3 separate regions of the Homo sapiens genome follow, and regions 1 and 2 are each linked to region 3. Evidence: fine-mapped expression QTL. A gene starts in region 3. Each other region holds a variant in brackets. All regions are shown on one strand. Distances are from middle to middle. Region 1 has its middle 66 kb from the start of CDKN2A-AS1. Region 2 overlaps MTAP (methylthioadenosine phosphorylase). Region 3 holds the start of MTAP (methylthioadenosine phosphorylase).

The links. PIP is the estimated chance that this variant, and not a neighbour inherited with it, causes the effect.
Region 1: its variant is the best candidate, but not a certain one, in a credible set for the expression of MTAP in prefrontal cortex (GTEx, PIP 0.86).
Region 2: its variant is the best candidate, but not a certain one, in a credible set for the expression of MTAP in lung (TOPMed, PIP 0.69).

Annotation. Positions count from the first base shown.
Region 1 is chr9:21,899,055-21,903,298 of GRCh38, forward strand. It overlaps a transcript of MTAP not described here. Among named protein-coding and RNA genes, the nearest start is that of CDKN2A-AS1, 66 kb to the right of the region's middle. The variant A/G (reference allele first, on the strand shown) is at 1,924.
Region 2 is chr9:21,824,580-21,828,823 of GRCh38, forward strand. All of the region lies in intron 4 of MTAP (methylthioadenosine phosphorylase), which reads left to right. Among named protein-coding and RNA genes, the nearest start is that of MTAP, 24 kb to the left of the region's middle. The variant G/A (reference allele first, on the strand shown) is at 1,960.
Region 3 is chr9:21,800,461-21,804,704 of GRCh38, forward strand. MTAP (methylthioadenosine phosphorylase) reads left to right here and starts at 2,176. Exons shown (of 8, transcript NM_002451.4): 1 at 2,176-2,321. The coding sequence starts at 2,289. RefSeq lists enhancers at 1,055-1,685, 1,686-2,314, 2,809-3,018 and a silencer at 2,359-2,518.

The sequences.
Region 1 (4,244 bases), 99 kb after region 3:
AAAAAAGGATGAGTTCATGTCCTTTGTAGGGACATGGATGAAGCTGGAAACCATCATTCTCAGCAAACTATCCCAAGGACAGAAAACCAAACACTGCATGTTCTCACTCATAGGTGAGAATTGAATAATGAGAACACCTGGACACAGGAAGGGGAACATCACACACCGGGGCCTGTTGTGGGGTGGGGGGAGGGGGGAGGGATAGCATTAGAAGATATACCTAATGTAAATGACAAGTTAACGGGTGCAGCACACCAACATGGCACATGTATACATATGTAACAAACTTGCACGTTGTGCATATGTACCGCATAACTTAAAGTACAATAATGGAAGGAAGGAAGGAGAAGGGGAAGGGGAAGGGGAAGGAGGGGAGGGAAGGAAGGAAAGGAAAGGAAGGAAGGAAAAGAAAGAACTGCCCAAGATTGGGTAATTTATAAAGGAGAGAGGTTCAGTTGACTCACAGTTCAGCATGGCTGGGGAGGCCTCAGGAAACTTACAGTCATGGTGGAAGGTGAACGGGAAGCAAGACACCTTCTTTACAGGGTGGCAGGACAGAGTGAGTGCAAGCAGGGTACATGCCAGATGCTTATAAAACCATCAGATCTTGTGAGACTCACTCATTGTCATGAGAACAACATGGGGAAACCACCCCCATCCAATTATCTCCACCTGGTCCCGCCCTTGACACGTGGGTATTATGCAGATTACAATTCAAGGTGAGATTTGGATGGGAACACAGAGCCAAACCATATCAGTACTGGTACAAAAACAGAAACACAAATCAATGGAACAGAGTAGAGAACCCAGAAATAAAGCTGCACACCTACAATCATCTGATCTTTGACAAAGTTGACAAAAACAAGCAATGGGGAAAGGACTCCCTATTCAATAAATGGTGCTGGGATAACTGGCTAGCCATATACAGAAGACTGAAACTGGACCCCTTCCTTATACCATATACAAAAATCAACTCAGGATGCATTAAACACTTAAATGTAAAACCTAGAACTATAAAAACCCTAGAAGAAAACCTAGGAAATACCATTCTAGACATAGGCCTTGGCAAATATATCATCAGGAAGACTCCAAAAGCAATTGCAACAAGAACAAAAATTGACAAGTGGGACCTAATTAAACTAAAGATCTTCTGCACAGCAAAAGAAACTATAAACAGATTAAACAGACAACCTACAGAATGGGAGAAAATATTTGTAAGCTATGCAACTGACTCTAATATCCAGAATCTATAAGGAACTTAAACAAATTAACAAGGAAAAAAATTTAAAAATGGGCAAACGAAATGAACAGACACTTTTCCAAAGAAGATGTACATGCAGCCAACAAGCATATGACAAAAATGCTCAACATCACTAATAATTAAACAAATACAAATCAAAGCCACAATGAAATACCATATCACACCAGTCAGAATGGCTACTATTAAAAAGCCAAAAATATCAGAAGCTGGTGAGATTGCAGGGAAAATGGGACACTAATACACTGCTGGTGGGAATGTAAATTAGTTCAGCCACTGTGGAAAGCGGTTTGGAGATTTCTCAAAGGATTTAAAAACAAAACTACCATTCAACCCAGCAATCCCATTACTGGGTATATACCCAAACGAATATAAACTGTTCAACCATAAAGACTCATGCATGCTTATGTTCATCACAGCACTATTCACAATAGCAAAGACATGGAATCAACCTTGATGCCCATCAACAGTGGACTGGGTAAAGAAAAAGAGGTAAATATACATCACGCAATACTATGCAGCCATGAGAAAGAACAAAATAATGTCTTTTGCAGCAGCATGGATGTAGCTGGAGACTATTATCCTAAGTAAACTAACGCAAGAACAGAAAACCAAATACCTCATATTCTCACTTATAAGTAGAAGCTAAACACTGAGTACACATG[A/G]ACACAAAGAAGGGAACAACTGATGCCAAGGCCCACCTAAGGATGCAGAGTGAGAGGAGAGTTAGGATTGAAAAACTACCTCTTAGGTACTATGCTTATTACCTGGGTGATGGAATAATCTGTATACCAAACTCCATGACATACAGTTTACCATTGTAACACACCTGCACAGGCATCCCTAAAACAAAACTTGTAAAGAAAATACCAAAATACACATTGACAAAAGAAAAAGAAGATACTAAAGACAACCTAAATAAAGAGAGGTCTTCATAGATGGAAAGGCTCAATGTTACAAAAATGTTAGTTCTCCTTAATATAAACTATCCAATACAATTCCAGTTTAAAAAATTGAAGAGTTGAGCCTTTTAAATTTTTTTAGTATTCATAACAAAAACAATTTTAAGTTTAATAGCACAGGAGGAAAAGTAATGAAGCTTGAAAATTAAAAGGGATACAGAATCCTAATGACACTTTGATTGACTATCTCATAAAGAATCAGACATCAGGCACAGAAAATTGCCACATTTTAGATTCTTGGCTACTTGCATTTTGCTAGTTTTTCATATGATTATTAACTATAAAACCTATAAACGAGCTTTTATTAGGAATCAAAGAAAGGGAATAAAGGACTAGGGAGGATACCTCAACCTCCTTTGCCAGGTGTATGGAGTTTTTAAAAAAGGTTAGTAGCAGCTATAAGGGCAAAGGAAAACAACTGAGTCTCAGGGGTTTGCCACAAGGAGGAAATGAGGTTATGAGGAACCCACATGGGCCTGGAGAAGCTTGTGACATTTTCTCATAGGCTATTTACAGCCAATGCCATCACAATACAAATAAATTTAAAACAGTGAAGAAAAACAGAAGTAAGCTAGTTTTACTGATTGTAGAGATTACTCTGTGTGCTATGATCAAGTTCCAAATTTGTTTGAGTTTTCTAGCTGCTAGAAATAACAAAAAGGAAAATATGACAAATGTTACAGTGTTCAAAAGTAGAAATGAGGCAACATGTTAAGTCCACATGAAATCCCTAAGTAGAATGTATGAGAAATAGCTTTCAGTCTGGGTTCCTACAGGCAAGGAACAGGTGCCATCTCCAGCTGAGTCAAGCAAAAGAGTAATTCGCTAAACGATATTGCAATAGCTCACAAAATCTACTAGGAAGAACTGAAGTAGAGGCTCAAGGCTAAGCCACTAGGAAAGACACACTGAAGCATGTTTTAGAATTGGTCTGGAGATAAAACAGCTTCCTCCAGTTCCACAGATACTACCATTTCCACCTGCTAAGCTAGTGTCCCTTCAAACCCTTGTTTCCTGTAGCTCATGAGTCAGATCCCATCTGGTAGCATTTAGTTCAGAGTCTTAAGTCGCATGCCTATGCCCTACCTGCAAAAGAGGAAGGAAAAGTAAGCATCTGGTATTTTTAGCTCCTATAATGGATCATCCACACTTAGCACATGTCTGTAATACTATGAATTCCCCAAACATAAAAACTAGTTATACTGGTACACAACCAAAACAACATGACAAATGTGACAATAACCATACACCATCCACTTTCAAGTTTTCTACATAACCAGTGAAGTCAATCCTTAGAGGGACTTAAATTAAGATTACAAATTGTTACTTGTTCCCTTATGAACTTTCTGACCTAAGTATTCTCAATCCAATAATGTAGTTATAATCCTGCATTTATTTACTGTTTTCATCAGGGTTTTTAATACATCCATATATGTAACTTTCTTGGATCAATTTAACTTGGTCTAGGTTATTCTTGGATCTACCAGAACAGAACCCAGAATGCCTGGAGGTGTGGATAGAATAGAAAATCTCTTTTATTACCTTTAAGGGCTGTTAAACAAAACTGAATTCACCAGTTACAAAAGCAAATGATTAAGGTAAGAACAGAAATATCAACACATTATGCTTGTTTACTTTAAAATGAAACTATCTTCTATATAAATAAAAACTGAAATTCCCACCAAAATGTAAAGAATTTAAAAGGTAAATTGTAAACATTATAAAAAGGCATTGTGGAAAAGATGAATTCAACTAAATGTGCAGCTATCTGAAAATGAGGCTGTGTTGTCTTCTCCTTAAGTATAGTGATTACAAATGAGGAAGGAGGATTGGAGGATTTCCGGCTGCTTTCTGTAGCATTGAATGGGGCCTGCTTTGTTAGATGACTTCAATTGCAGGATATTTCAGAAGGTGGATACATGGACTATACTATATTTAGACTCCAGCTGCCAGTGAGTCTGGGGGAGGCATACTTAGGCTTGCTGCAAAACGACGATCCATGGCTTTCGTGAACAAGTTATCCT
Region 2 (4,244 bases), 24 kb after region 3:
CTCAGATCTCAAACTCTGTGCTGGGAGAACCACTACTCTCTTCAAAGCTGTCAGACAGGGACATTTAAGTCTGCAGAGGTTTCTGCTGCCTTTTGTTTGGCTATGCCCTGCCCCCAGAGTTGGAGTCTACAGAGGCAGGCAGGCCTCCTTGAGCTGTGGTGGGCTCCACCCAGTTAGAGCTTCCCAGCCACTTTGTTTACCTACTCAAGCCTCAGCAGTGGTGGGCGCCCATCCCCCAGCCTTGCCGCCGCCTTGCAGTTTGATCTCAGGCTGCTGTGCTAGCAATAAGCGAGGCTCTGTGGGCGTGGGACCCTCCGAGCTATGCACGGGATATAATCTCCTGGTGTGCCGTTTGCTAAGACAGTTGGAAAAGCACAGTATTAGGGTGGCAGTGACCCGATTTTCCAGGTGCCGTCTGTCACCCCTTCCCTTTGCTAGGAAAGGGAATTCCTTGACCCCTTACGCTTCCTAGGTGAGGCGATGCCTCACCCTGCTTTGGCTCACACTCGATGGGCTGCACCCGCTCTCCGGCACCCACTGTCCGACAAGCCCCAGTGAGATGAACCCGGTACCTAAGTTGGAAATACAGAAATCACCTGTCTTCTGCATTGCTCATGCTGGGAGCTGTAGACTGGAGCTGTTCCTATTAGGCCATCTTGGAACCGCCTCTCCCACATTTTCTTTATCTGTTCATCTGTTGATGGACGTTTATGTTGCTTCCATATCTTGGCTATTGTGAATAATGCTGCAGGGACCATGGAAGTGCTGATGTCTTTCTTGACGTAAAATTTCATTTCCTTATACACTCTGAGATGGGATTCTTGGATCATGTGGTAGTTGATATTTTCAGTTTTTTGGGGAATTTTAGTAATGGCTGTATTAATTTATATTCCTACCAGCAGTATACAAGGGTTCTGTTTTTGTCACATCCTCATCAACACTTACTTTGTTTTGTCATTTTGATAATGGCCATTGTGGCCTGGCACAGTGGTTCACGCCTGTAATCCTAGCACTTTGAGAGGTTGAAGCAAGAGGATTGCTTGAGCCCAGAAGTTTGAGACCAGCTTGGGCAACATAGTGAGACCTTGTCTCTGTAAAAAATAAAACAAAAATTAGCCATGTGTGTTGATATACAGCCATTGTCCCAGATACTTAAGAGACTGAGGTGGGAGAATCGCTTGAGCCTGGGAGGTCAAGGCTAGAATGATTCATGAATGCACCACTACACTCCAGCCTGGGTGACAGCAAAAAAGCCATTCAGGTGTGAGGTGATATCTTATTGTGGTTTTTATTTGCATTTTCTTGATGATTAGTGATGTTGAGCATTTTTCATACAGCTGTTGTCCATTTATGTGTCTTCTTTTGAGGAATGTCTATTCAAGTCCTTTGCCTATTTTTTTAATCAGGTTGTGTTTTTAGAACTTTCTTTCATTTAGTTTCCTTACGTATTTTGGGTATTAACCCCTTATCCGAGGTATGGTTTGTAAACATTTTTTTCCTATCTATAGGCTGTCTCTTTATATTATGGGAATTTTTAAACATATACACAAAAGAATAATAATCAGGGACTCTCTAAGTTCCTAATTCCTAGCTTCAAGAGAACATTTTCTTTTTTTTTTTTTTTAAAGAGAGTATAAATTAGTATTTCCTTAGTATTAGATATCTAGGAAGTTCTCTCTATTGTCTCATGAACTTTTTTTTTAATAGTTGGTTTGTTCAAATAAGGGTCCACTCATTACACACATAAGCTTAATAAGCCTTCTAGTCTGGAAGATTCCACCTTCTTTTTTCCTTTTCCTTTTACTGCCTATCCACATTCTGGATGTTACTAATTGTATCAAGTGTCATTTAGTGTCTTCTCCCGGCCCCTGTGTTTGCTATAAACTGGATTTAGTTCTGGTGGCCTGATCAGAACCAGGTTTGAATTCTTGGCAAGGATCCTTCCTTCTGCATCCTGTC[G/A]GAAGGCATGTGATGTCCAGTTGTCCCTTCATAATGCGATCGATCAGGTGCCAGAGGTGCTGGGGTTTTGTTTATTATTATTATTATTATTATTATTATTATTATTATTATTTAACTGCACAAGTAATATATATTGTTCCTTTACCCCCCCAAAAAAACAACAATAATAGACTGCCAAATTTTTGGACCTTTTCTGCATTTAGAGGTAGTTGAAATCACAAGGGAAAGTGGTGGTCTCTAGGTCAGGGATCCCCCACCCCTGTGGCTTGTTAGGAACCGGGCTGCACAGAAGAAGGTGAGCCGTGGGGCGAGAGCGAGCATTACCACCTGAGCTCCCCATCCTGTCAGATCAGCAGCAGCATTAGAGTCTCATAGGAGCAGGAACCCAATTGTGAACTGCACGTGGAAGGGATCTGTGTTGTGCACTCCTTATGAAAATCTAACTAATGCCTGATGATCTGAGGTGGAAGAGTTTCATCCTGAAACCATCCCCTCTGACCCTCTCTGTGGAAAAATTATCTTCCATGAAATCAGTCCCCGGTGCCAAAAAGATTAGGGGCAGCTGTACTAGGGCCACCCCCTCCCCTATTCCTGGTAGAAATAATTGCCTCTCAGAATGCTCTGGGTGAAGACAGGAGCCTCCTGGGCTGGATGGAGAGTGGAGAGTAGCGCAGAGTTAAATCATTTGGGGATCCTTCCACAATCCCCCATCCAATCACCCTGCCTACCACCTCAGTCCATGCTGCTCCTCCCATCAGTTATCTCTGAGCTTACTGTACTCACAGCCTGCTCCTAGAGCTTCTGCTATGGGAGAGAGGGTTGTCCAGTCCAGGCCACTGTGGCTTCTGCCTTTCAGGGATTCATTATAATTTCCAGTCTATCAGAAGCATTCTTGGTTGTTTCCTGATGGAATGAAACTGTTTTGAAATTGCCCATTCTGTAGGTCAGAAATGGTTGAATATCAGCAGTTTCATGTGGTTCAACCTAATAAATAATGGGGTTAGACTAAAATGGTTACATATTTCTCACCCCAAGTTATGTCCTTATAATGTATTTATACCTGACATTATATATTTGTGACCTGTTTCCCTCTAAGCCATGTGAGATCAAAGTCACTTTCTGCCCAGTTTGCACCATATCACCAACACCCACAACAGTTCCTGGCCCATCTTTGCTCTGTCAGTAATTTTTGAGGGCTTGAACATAGTCATTTGAATAGAGAGATAGGCTGGAGTTTGTGTTTTGGAGACATCTTGATCAAAATCTCAATGGCTGTCAACGTCCATGTGTTTGGAGGTAATAGTTTAAGAAAATGATTATAATATGATTGCTAAATAGAGTGGAATACAAAACTCCATATTCAGGATGATCCAGATGTATAAAGTATTACAGATGATACTGTAAAGTCTGAATTGGGCACTGAGCCTTGGGTTAATCTGTTACTTAAACAGTATGACTATACGCTGTTGCATTTCCCAGATCTTTTACTCACATGTCTTAAATGTAGATGTTTCACATACTGGCTCTTTCAAGAAAGCAGTTGGGTCAGAAGATGGAGACTAGAAAGAAAACAGGTATTGCCATCAGATCTGGTTTCATTCTATCTTAGCCAGGTAACCTTAAGATCTTCTACTATTTTTCTGTTTATGAGACATATGGATAACCTGCCCTCTTAATGTTTCCTTGGAAGTTCAAAGTCTCTAATAAGTGCCTTTTGTGGGATCTTGCATGTGTTAACCTTCTCAGTAACTGAGTGCCATTATTGAGAGTGTGTGCATACTGGCTGGAGGGTCCACTAGTTGACACTACTTTACAACAACAGGAGGAAAGAATCTGTTAAAAGAAGGATCCCTGGCAGGGTGCAGTGGCTCACGCCTGTAATCCCAACATTTTGGGAGGCTGAGGCAGGCAGATCACCTGAGGTCAGGAGTTCGAGACCAGCCTGGTCAACATGGTGAAACCCCGTCTTTACTAAAAATACAAAAAAAAAGTAGCCAGGTGTGGTGAGCACCTGTAATCCCAGCTACTCGGAAGGCTGAGGCAGGAGAATTGCTTGAACCCAGGAGGCAGAGGTTACAGTGAACCGAGATTGCTCCATTGCACTCCAGCCTAGGCAACAAGAGTGAAACTCCATCTCAAAAAAAAAGAAGGATCCCTAAGAGAATATAATTTAGCATGAAATCTCAATTTTTACATTGATTACTTATTTGGGGTGATAACGTTTTGAATATATTAGGTTAGACAAGATTTTAAAGTTAATTTTACCTGTTTCTCTTTTACTTTTT
Region 3 (4,244 bases):
TAAGAACAGAAGGGCAGGGCAAAATCTATGTTCACAAATAGACCGACTCTCCTTGTCTTGTTGACATAGTAATCAAAAAGGGAGACCACTGAAAATTTTTGCGTATTCAAAATTATTGAAAATTTTGTCTTCCTTTTATTTTAGGGCTTGTTAAGAAAAAACATGACCCAAAATTTGGAAATAAGGCAAAAATATTACTGCCTACCTTTTCAAAGATACTGCACTAAAGAAAGCACTGTCCCACAGGACTGCCCAAGGGTTATCCAAGTCTGGGTAGCAAGGGGTCGTCTGATTCAGGCACTACCCTGAGCGGAAAACAATGGCCCAAGACCTCGACCAAACCCAGCTCTCCACCTGTTTTTGTACAGCTTTGAACTGAGAATGCTTTTTTACAATCTTAAGTGGTTGAGAAAATATCAAAAGTAGAATAATATTTTGTCACATGTAAGTTTACATGAAATTCAAACTTTAGAAGAATTTCCTCTTCACAGACATCACATCTTCAAGAGCAAATGCTTGAGCCCTAACCTGCAAGTTATAGTAGAAAAGTCCAGAAGTCCAGCCTGGTCCTCGCCAAGTTTCCAACTCCTATGCCTAGGGGTATTTTATGCTTACAGGATCTAACTTGGTTACAACGTCTAACTTTTAGCAGAGAGGCAGTGCTGAGTAGAAACTGGACTTGTTAACCATATCAAGTCACTTAAGTTGGCTAGGATCCCCTACTTAGGTAGCGGCCATAAAGCCTAGGGCATCCCTGTGCCCTCAATGGTTCACTTCTGAGTGGTGGGCTTCCTGCTCCTCAATAGAGCAATCGGCAGAAAGGCCCCTAGAAAGCTACATTGTCTTCATCCGCGAAGGATTCCCTGTCTCCTATTCCTCAAAGGAGCACCCGGATTCTACTTTCATTCTTCTTTTGCCATTGCATTTTATAACTTAAAAGAAATAGATGATTGTAACAGAAGAAAGAAAACTTTACATTGTGAGAAAATTTAGACCTAAAGCTTATAGTAATGTGAGGACGAAAGTCTATACTGTTTAAGTAAATAGGTTCTATGAGCAGCATCCAGGCTAACATCACACAGTGGTATTTTGAATTAAATTGTACTTGTGTTTTGTTTCCGTGTTTTGCTGCTGTAAGGAAAGAGGAAAGCATCCCCTTTCTCGGCCCTCCTCCCACGTCCAGGCTAATTTGCAGCATTTCTACATCTCAGAGTCCACCCTTAAGATCCTTGCCACCCATTATTTTGTTTCAGAACGCTTAATCCATCAAGGAAGGTTAAATTGGATTACCCCAGTAGGGAAGGGACGGGGGCTGTAAGCATGAGGGATTATCCCTGTAAAGGGCTCGTGGTGTGTGTGTGTGTGCGTCCTGCTAGTGTTGAATGACGGAGACCTGAGTTTGGATTCTGAATCCAGGTGTATTCGATGCCGCTCCGGCGTAGAACGGGTTAAAGATGCCCCCAGCCAGGTAGAGCCAGACTGGGAGTTGTGCAAGGTCTCAACCCCCTAAAAGCGGCCCCTCAAATTGAAGATGAGTAAATCATAGTTCGTAAATCAGAAAGATTATCCAGTACTACGTTACTCTGTTTATTTCCCTTTCGTCATCCCTGAGTCTTGGGTCAAGTCCATCCCAGCTCTGTCCTCCAGGAATCAAGGGAAATACGCAAACCCGCGGTGGGTTCGCAGCCGCAGGAAGGACAAATCTTGCCCCCGCCGCGGCGGCCGCCCCGCGTTAGCTGCCTAAGAGAATCTCCGTGGCCGGCCAGTACCCGCCTTGGTGAGGATTCTCCCTCCCGCGAGAACTTCTGGAATGCCGCCGGGCCAGATTTTGCAGCTGAGGCCTCCGACGCCACTAATATTGGGCCAAGCAGGGAGTGCTGCTCTTCCTTATAAGGTTTTAGCGAAAGTTAAGTAAGCCAATTAAAGTGCAAAACACACAGTCTGGAACAATACAGCGCTCTATAAATGGTCTCCATTATTATCATTATCCGTTAGTTATAACTGGGGATAAAAAAAAAAAAAAAACGACAAAAACCTGGAGAACCGGAAAGGTCTGCAAAAGGGGCGGAACGCGGGAACTTCGATTTGGGGAAGGGGTGGCGGGGGAGATCCCACACAAGCAGCCAATCCAGCTGTCCCGGGGAGGAAGAGGAGGAGTCAAGGCCCGCCCCTGGTCTCCGCACTGCTCACTCCCGCGCAGTGAGGTTGGCACAGCCACCGCTCTGTGGCTCGCTTGGTTCCCTTAGTCCCGAGCGCTCGCCCACTGCAGATTCCTTTCCCGTGCAGACATGGCCTCTGGCACCACCACCACCGCCGTGAAGGTGAGATGAGCCCTCCCAGCCGCAGCGGTTCGCCCTGCCGGATGCCTTCTCGCCCCCGCGCCGGGGGACCGCGCCTCCGGGGGCCATGCGCCCGGCCCGTGCGTCCCTTGCCGCCGCGGGGAGGGACTGGGGCGCGGCACTCGGGACTCACTTGCCGCGCGAGGAGAGGGTACGCTTGCAAATGATCCCCCTGCCGCACCGCCAACACACACACACACACACACACACACACACACACACACACACACACACACACCACCTTTTGGCTTATCTGCACCCGCACCCTGTAGGGCGTAGGCACCCCTTTAGAGAGAGAGGTCGTGGATGGGAGAGGCTGCACCCATGCCACCACCATTCCTGAGAACCACTCTTCTTCCAAGAAAGACACCCGGCTGGAGTCAGGAGGTGTCCGGGCGCCTGCAGCTTCTGTGACCGTCTCCTGGTGCCTTGCGGGACTCCAGCTTCCGCTCTCTGACTCTGCTTGTTGCCTGCGGCCCACGTGGGAGAACTGCTTACTTGCTCTTTTGTATGCTTCCGGCTTCTTTTTCCTCCAAACGTAGGCCTTCTCCGCGCTGAAGTTTTCCCCAGCAGCGTAATACTGTAAGAATTCTGAGACTTTCTTCGAAAAGGAGTACAGGCGTCCGTTTTTAGGGCTGCACTGTTTGGAGGCCTCTGGCTTGAAACTGCTTTGTTTTGCAGCCTTGCAAGTTAGAGTTCAATTTCCTTGTGCCCTAGGCCCTGAGAGGCCTTGATACAAGGGGTCATTGTGCGGTGGGAAGCTTTGTGCTGAGGAGGGCACGAGTTCTGAGAGTAGCAGCTGGCTTCCCTGGGGTTTTAAACACTTCTCTCCTGGTTAGTATTCCGAGAGAGAATTACAGCACGTAAAGAAAAATTGATGATAAAACTTAAGACCTCTTCTAGGCAGTTTATTACTGGCTAAGAATGCGTTCTTGTTTGATTTTTAGAAATTTTTGGCCTATGGGATAGGAAGGTCTGCGATCTTCTCCAAAGCATCTCGATTCCCTACACTCGACTGCAGTTTTCCCGGGAGAAGGCGAATTTCTGCGGTCAGTGTGTAATCAGCCAGATTAGTTTATTACGCCCTTGCAGGTTTAAATGAGCCACTTAGAATGAGAGGAATGGTGAAGGGTGTTGCATCCAGACTTATATATGAAACTTATTTTGTCATTTTGAAAAGAATCTTGCATCCAGCAAATATTTATAGAAGGCCTCTCCCCTGCCTTCATTGTTTGGCGGAAACAAGGCAGAAATGGTTTTCATGAAACTCGTGTGAAGTATGTGACTTCTCTTAGGTGCTCATCTATAAACTGAGAATTTTACTGCAGAATTTGCTAGGAGGGCTAGAATTATATTGTCTATGTTGCACATGGTAGAAGCTTATTAAGTGGTAGTGCTTATAAGTGGGGGAACTGAGATTAATTTTGAATGATCTTTTCCCCAAAAATTATTAAGTTATTGTGTTAGGTATCATTAGGCCACAACTTTTCACCTTATCCTTGCAGGAATACACTTCAAGCGCCATTAAAAATGGAGAAATGGTGTTTAAAACAGTCTTACTTTAATCTGGTTAGCATTCTCCCTGCCACAGGGTTTCCCTTCAAATTAATGCAGTGCATTTAAGTGCAGAATGGGCAATGGGATTCTCAGAGACCTGATGTAAATATTGAATAGTGTGTATTTTTGGTCTTGGCAAGCTTCTGGATATAAAATTAAGAGGTACATATGGTGCTAGGACTGCCTGCTGATTTCTCTTTTAATTTAGAACAGATGACAGCTTTGCCGTAGAGATTCCATGATGCCAGCACCGTATTCCCCAGACTTCTAAGGCAACATTCTGTATAGAAGATGTGAGGTGCCAGTGTCCAGAGCAAAATAGGTTAATAAAAACCACATCCTATTCCC